2 linked regions of the Homo sapiens genome follow. The protein of the gene in region 1 interacts with the protein of each later gene in a biochemical or structural test. Each region holds a gene or a part of one and is shown on either strand. Other genes may lie near its edges. The genes, in order: TNFRSF25 and DAP3.

The links.
Region 2: the proteins of TNFRSF25 (region 1) and DAP3 form a complex in vitro, tested with the Homo sapiens proteins (one study listed by BioGRID).

The regions. Positions count from the first base shown.
Region 1 is NC_000001.11:6,459,974-6,463,377, reverse strand, and holds the end of TNFRSF25 (tumor necrosis factor receptor superfamily member 25 isoform 2 precursor), read left to right. Parts: intron 1-230; coding exon of another isoform or gene 231-250; coding exon 251-306; coding exon of another isoform or gene 307-313; intron 314-407; coding exon 408-515; intron 516-711; coding exon 712-749; intron 750-1,203; coding exon 1,204-1,384; intron 1,385-1,615; coding exon 1,616-1,944; 3' UTR 1,945-2,192; coding exon of another isoform or gene 2,193-2,198; 3' UTR 2,199-2,592; downstream 2,593-3,404. UniProt on the Homo sapiens protein: Receptor for TNFSF12/APO3L/TWEAK. Interacts directly with the adapter TRADD. Mediates activation of NF-kappa-B and induces apoptosis. May play a role in regulating lymphocyte homeostasis.
Region 2 is NC_000001.11:155,723,551-155,727,090, reverse strand, and holds part of DAP3 (small ribosomal subunit protein mS29), read right to left. Parts: intron 1,710-3,540; coding exon 1,601-1,709; intron 1,165-1,600; coding exon 1,072-1,164; intron 1-1,071. UniProt on the Homo sapiens protein: As a component of the mitochondrial small ribosomal subunit, it plays a role in the translation of mitochondrial mRNAs. Involved in mediating interferon-gamma-induced cell death. Displays GTPase activity in vitro.

The sequences.
Region 1 (3,404 bases):
GGGGACAAAATAGGCAAAATCCCTGTCCTTTTGGGGTTGACATTCTAGTGACTCTTCATGTAGTCTAGAAGAAGCTCAGTGAATAGTGTCTGTGGTTGTTACCAGGGACACAATGACAGGAACATTCTTGGGTAGAGTGAGAGGCCTGGGGAGGGAAGGGTCTCTAGGATGGAGCAGATGCTGGGCAGTCTTAGGGAGCCCCTCCTGGCATGCACCCCCTCATCCCTCAGGCCACCCCCGTCCCTTGCAGGAGCACCCTGGGGAGCTGTCCAGAGCGCTGTGCCGCTGTCTGTGGCTGGAGGCAGAGTAGGTGGTGTGCTGGGAATGCGAGTGGGAGAACTGGGATGGACCGAGGGGAGGCGGGTGAGGAGGGGGGCAACCACCCAACACCCACCAGCTGCTTTCAGTGTTCTGGGTCCAGGTGCTCCTGGCTGGCCTTGTGGTCCCCCTCCTGCTTGGGGCCACCCTGACCTACACATACCGCCACTGCTGGCCTCACAAGCCCCTGGTTACTGGTAAGTACACACACCCACACACGCACCCAGAAGCCTGGGGTCAGGATGGGTAGCCCAGAGTCTACTCAACCCTGATACAGAAGGGGAAACTGAGGCAGGGAGTGTGGGGTGCAGAGGAACCCTAGAGGAGCTGTACCAGCACCCAGGTCCAGGAGGCTTGCCTGGTGGCTGACCGCAATCTCTCTGTGTCTGTCAGCAGATGAAGCTGGGATGGAGGCTCTGACCCCACCACCGGTAAGAACCTCACTGTGTGATTCTGGGCTGCCTTCTGGAGCTGGAAGATCAAGCCTTACTATGATCCCTGGAGCTTGGCACGCGGCCAGCACCGGGTAGCCCTAGTGGACAGAGGTGTTGGGAGCAGAGTCATCAGTGGATGAGACCAGCACAGTGCCTGCCCTCAAGGGGTGCTCAGTCAGCTGGAGTTCAGATTCGTACACAGGAGCTAACAGTTCAATGGAAGGAGAGCCCCATGGTGCTGGGGGACAAGAGGAAGGAGGCGGGGGCAGGGGACTCAAGGCAGAAGCAAGAGTTCTGCTGGGCTACAGTGAGAGCAGGGCCAACTGTGGGAGGTGTCATTGCGGGGGTGTCTGCTGACTGAACCAGGGACTGTCCCCTCCTGGAGAGGCACTGCGGGTAAGGGGCCTTACTTGGCAAGCAGGGCTGACCTGGGGCCCCTCTTGGCTTCCAGGCCACCCATCTGTCACCCTTGGACAGCGCCCACACCCTTCTAGCACCTCCTGACAGCAGTGAGAAGATCTGCACCGTCCAGTTGGTGGGTAACAGCTGGACCCCTGGCTACCCCGAGACCCAGGAGGCGCTCTGCCCGCAGGTGACATGGTCCTGGGACCAGTTGCCCAGCAGAGCTCTTGGTAAGGGACATCAGTGGCCTGAGGCCTTGACCCCATTCTCCTGTCTGCGGTGGGAAGTTGTGGTTTCACAACGTGTTCCCTTTCTGCCCCCTAACTGACGGAGTCCGCCCTATGCCCTGACCCACCGGATCCAGCGGGCTTCAGCCCTGGGGTACCCGCACGAACGCCCCTGACTCTGCCTCCCGACCGCGGCCCACGTACCCCAATTGGCTCTCTCTGGCCCTGCCCCAGGCCCCGCTGCTGCGCCCACACTCTCGCCAGAGTCCCCAGCCGGCTCGCCAGCCATGATGCTGCAGCCGGGCCCGCAGCTCTACGACGTGATGGACGCGGTCCCAGCGCGGCGCTGGAAGGAGTTCGTGCGCACGCTGGGGCTGCGCGAGGCAGAGATCGAAGCCGTGGAGGTGGAGATCGGCCGCTTCCGAGACCAGCAGTACGAGATGCTCAAGCGCTGGCGCCAGCAGCAGCCCGCGGGCCTCGGAGCCGTTTACGCGGCCCTGGAGCGCATGGGGCTGGACGGCTGCGTGGAAGACTTGCGCAGCCGCCTGCAGCGCGGCCCGTGACACGGCGCCCACTTGCCACCTAGGCGCTCTGGTGGCCCTTGCAGAAGCCCTAAGTACGGTTACTTATGCGTGTAGACATTTTATGTCACTTATTAAGCCGCTGGCACGGCCCTGCGTAGCAGCACCAGCCGGCCCCACCCCTGCTCGCCCCTATCGCTCCAGCCAAGGCGAAGAAGCACGAACGAATGTCGAGAGGGGGTGAAGACATTTCTCAACTTCTCGGCCGGAGTTTGGCTGAGATCGCGGTATTAAATCTGTGAAAGAAAACAAAACAAAACAAAAACGGCTTCTTGGCGTTTCTGCGGGGCTGGGGTGTTAAGTGGACTGGACTTTTCTCGAGGGATTCGAAGGGGACGGGAATCTTGTCACCCCGGGATCTGGCACCCATGGTGGAGTCCAGTGTGGCCTTAGCTCCCAAGCCTGCCCCTCCCGAGTCCACTCTGGCTCAATTACCCCGAGAAGGAGAGAGCAAGTCGCGGCCACAGCGAGTGAGTGAACCGGAGCCCAGATGAGAGCGCTTTAATGGGGCTGCGAGGTGGCGGAGACAGGGTCGGGATGGGGTGCAGCAGTTGGAGACACAGGGTCAGGGCCCCTCATCCTCTATTCACTCCACCGGGGCAGTGAAAGGGTCCCGGCAGCGAGTGGGTCTGGCTGGGGACGGGGCGCAGACTTGAGGGAGGTGGGGCCAGAGGTGGGGTCCCGGGGGCCACAAGTGCGGCCCGGCCAGACAGGCAGTTTTCATGTTTCTGGTAAACAAATGACTGAGAGGAAACCCTTGGCGGGGATAAGAAATGAGGCCCGGGCTAGGCCGCGCGCAGATCTGGGTCAGAGAGGAAGGGAAAACCCCTTCCCCGAGCTCGGGGCCTGCCTCCACCCAGGATGCGCCAGCGACGCCGGTTCCGGGGTGCGGGGGAGGGGGCTGCATCCTGGAGGGGGCTGAGCCCCGCAGGAAAACAAAGTCACCACCCACGGGGCTGGGGAGAGCTCTGCACTCTTTGATAGTCAACGAACATGCAAATATATGTAAGTCGGCATGCAAATAAGCAGCATTTGTTGTTGTTTGCGTCAGCAGCTTGGGCACTTTTTCTGGGCAACCGTGGCGGCGTGTGCACTCCAGTGTTGCCAAGGGCTGGGGATACGGGGGGCCAGGGTGGGGGTCAGGGAGGGTTTCCAGCGCAGGAGGGGAGGGCTGTGCGGCTCCCAGCCTTTCCACCAGGGCCTGGCTGGCTGGGGCTGGGGCGGAGGGCCCCACGGAGCTGCGAGGCTGCGGACAGGAGTCTGCGGCCTCTAGTACTTAGCGATGTCCCCCTTCTTCAGGATGACCTGTCGCTGCCAGGGCGCCAGCTTGCTCTCATCGTAGCCCAGCGTCCGCAGCTTCTCTGACTGTTCCTTCTCCCGCCGCAGCTCCTCCTGCTTCTGTCGCTCCTCCTCTTTCCTGAGGCAGTGGGGAGGGGGGCAGA
Region 2 (3,540 bases), about 150 Mb from region 1:
AAAAGGCTCTATGGGTACTCAGGACTGTTAACAGATGGCAAAAACAAAACAAAACAAAACAAAACAAAACTCCATGGCGACCTCTAAGGCAGAAGTTTATGTCCATGGGTATTAAATATCAAAAGAAGGACTGCTTAGCATCAAAAGGCTTCAGGAAGCTTTTAGCCGAATTTCCTTTTGTCACATTGACTTCACCTTATAATCTGCTTGGCAGTAATATCACGAAGAAATCATGATGGATGAGCTCAGTCTGCTCTACATCTGGAGTAAAGGCTTTTCTTCTTCTTCTTTTTTTTTTTTTTTTTTGAGACAGGGTCTTGCTTTGTTGCCCACGCTAGAGTGTAGTGGTGCGATCACAGCTCACTGCAGCCTCCTCCTGGGCTCTAAGCAATATTCCAGCCTCAGCCTCCCAAAGTGCTGGGATTATAGGTTTGAGCCATCGTGACTGGCAAAGGCTTTTCCTTTAGCTATCAGATCCCTGTTAGGAAAGTAAAGCTGAGGCCGGGTGCAATGGCTCATGCCTGTAATCCCAGCACTTTGGGAGGCCAAGGCAGGTGGATCACCTGAAGTCAGGAGTTCGAGACCAGCCTGGCCAACATGGTGAAACCCTGTCTCTACTAAAAATACAAAAAAAATTAGCCGGGCATGGTGGCGGGCGCCTGTAGTCCCAGCTACTCAGGAGGCTGAGGCAGAAGAATGGTGTGAACCCGGGAGGCGGAGCTTGCAGTGAGCTGAGATCGTGCCACTGCACTCCAGCCTGGGCGACAGAGCAAGACTCCGTCTCAAAAAAAAAAAAAAAAAAAAATTAGCTGGGCGTGGTGGTGTGGTGGGCGCCTGTAATCCCAGCTACTTGGGAGGCTGAGGCAGGAGAATCTCTTGAGCCTGGGAGGCGGAGGTTGCGGTGACCTGAGATTGCGCCTCTGCACTCCAGACTGGCCGACAAGAGCGAAACTCCATCTCAAAAAAAAAAAAAAAAAGAAAAGAAAAGAAAAGAAAATTAAAGCTGCAAGGCTACCACAGTAACAGGATAACTAAACCTAACAGACAGAAGAAACAACAGGAAGTTCTTACCATCTGGAATATGTAGTATCAGCCAGTCCTGTTTTGCACAGAAATGAATAACATGGCAAAGACTTAGGGTTTTTCCTGTTCCCTTCTCTCCATCTAAAGTATATGTTGTTAAAGAAAACATGACTGGAAGGATCACTTGTATGTGAACAGTAGTTATGCTTTGTTTTGTTTTTTTGAGATGGGGTTGGAGTGCAGTGGCTTGATATCAGCTCACAGCAACCTCCGCTTCCCGGGTTCAAGCGATTCTCCTGCCTCAGCTTCCCAAGTAGCTGGGATTACAGGTGCACGCTACCACACCCGGCTAATATATTGCATTTTTAGTAAATGCGGGGTTTCGCCATGTTGGCCAGGCAGGTCTTGAACTCCTGACTTCAGGCGATACGCCTGCCTCGGCTTCCCAAACTCCTGGGATTATAGGTGTGAGCTACCATGCCCGGCCTCAACAGTACTTTTTTTCATTTCTTCTGTTGCCTTATTTGAGGGGAGAAAGCATTGGTTCATGAGGGTCCACGCAGGCAGGAAAGGATACACAGAAGATATCGTATAGCTGGATAAGCAAAACTGGTGTTTTTCAGGTAATGCAGAAGTTCTAGGGCTGGTTTCCTTACCATCAGGCAAGCTTCACTGAATGTCTTCACCTGATAAAGTAGGAAAGAAGGAAAGAGTGGGTGGGTGTGGAAGGAGTGGGTGGGGGGTGGTATATATACTCTGCCTAAAGTGGCAACCAAGACCATCAGATTGCATGCCTCTAATTTACTCAGTTAGGAGAAGCTGGGTTGGTACTGAGTTTGAAAATCTATCCATATAACTTAGCTAAAAACTGAAATACATTATTCCGCACTAAGTAACATGATAGTCAGCTTTTGATTATTCCTATTACTGAAGCATATATTCTATCTCAGCTGAAATCTATAAATAATTGATATATCTCATAACAAAATTATGTATACCACTTAGGGCCACTGTAAATATGGAAAGCATATAGAAAAATGCTTAAAATTTCTGACACAAGTTAATAATTCAATAAACATTAACTCTTTAAATTTTTTTTCTTTTTTTTTTTTTGAGACGGAGTTTCACTCTTGTTGCCCAGGCTGGAGTGCAATGGCACGATCTCGGCTCACCACAACCTCTGCCTCCCAGTTCAAGTGATTCTCCTGCCTCAGCCTCCCGAGTAGCTGGGATTACAGGCACCCACCACCATGCCCGGCTATTTTGTATTTTTAGTACAGAAGGAGTTTCTCCATGTTGGTCAGGCTGGTCTCAAACTCCCGACCTCAGGTGACACCCCCGTCTTGGCCTCCCAAAGTGCAGGGATTACAGGCGTGAGCCACTGCACCTGGCCTAAAATTTATTTTTAGTTGATTTTTTTTTTTTTTCTTTTTTTGAGACAGAGTCTCACTCTGTCACCCAGGCTAGAGTGCAGTGGTGTGATCTCGGCTCACTGCAACCTCCGCCTCCGGGGTTCAAGCAATTCTTCTGCCTCAGTCTCCTCAGTAGCTGGGATTACAGGTGCCACCACCATGCCAGGCTGATTTTTGTAATTTTAGTAGAGACAGGCTTTCACCATGTTGGTCAGGCTGGTCTCGAACTCCTGACCTCATGATCCACCCGTCTCAGCCTCCCAAGGTGCTGGGATTATAGGCGTGAGCCACCGCACCTGGCCTAAAATTTATTTTTATTACTTTAACCATTTAGACTTTTTTCTCTAGAACTAAATACATGGCGGCTCAGGAGCAGGTGTGACCAGCTGCCTCACAACTCTAAGGCCATCCATACCTCATACCTCCAGCATACTAACCTTTCAGAGTTTAATTCCCCTTTTGCTACCAGAATACTTTGGTGGGAAATTTGGGAAGTACTAATGTGTGTGAAACTGATTTGCAAAGAAAATATTAAAATATGTCTACTAATAAGAATATCTAACAAATACTGTTTGTAAGTATAACTAAAATAGTGTTAATTTTTTTTTTTTTTTTTTGAGACAGAGTCTCGCTCTGTCGCACAGGCTGGAGTGCAGTGACACGATCTCAGCTCACTGCAACCTCCGCCTCCCGGGTTCAAGCGATTCTCCTGCTTCAGCCTCACAAGTAGCTGTGACTACAGGCGTGTGCCACCACGCCCAGCTAATTTTTGTATTTTTAGTAGAGATGGAGTTTCACCATGTTGGCCAGGCTCATCTTGAACTCCTGGCCTTAAGTAATCTGCCCACCTCAGCTTCCCAAAGTGCTGGAATTACAGGCGTGAGCCATTGTACCCAGCCAGTGTTGATATTTTTAAAAGAAATCCTAACAAAACAATTGAATTGGTGTAGGATTTGACAGGCAATTCCAAACTTAATGGAAGGCTCAATGTTCAAAAAAACATGATAAAGGTATTAAAACAAATGTTGGCTGGGCGTGGTGGCTCATCCCTGTAATCCCAGCACTTTGGGAGGCCAAGACAGGTGGATCACCTGAGGTTAGGAGT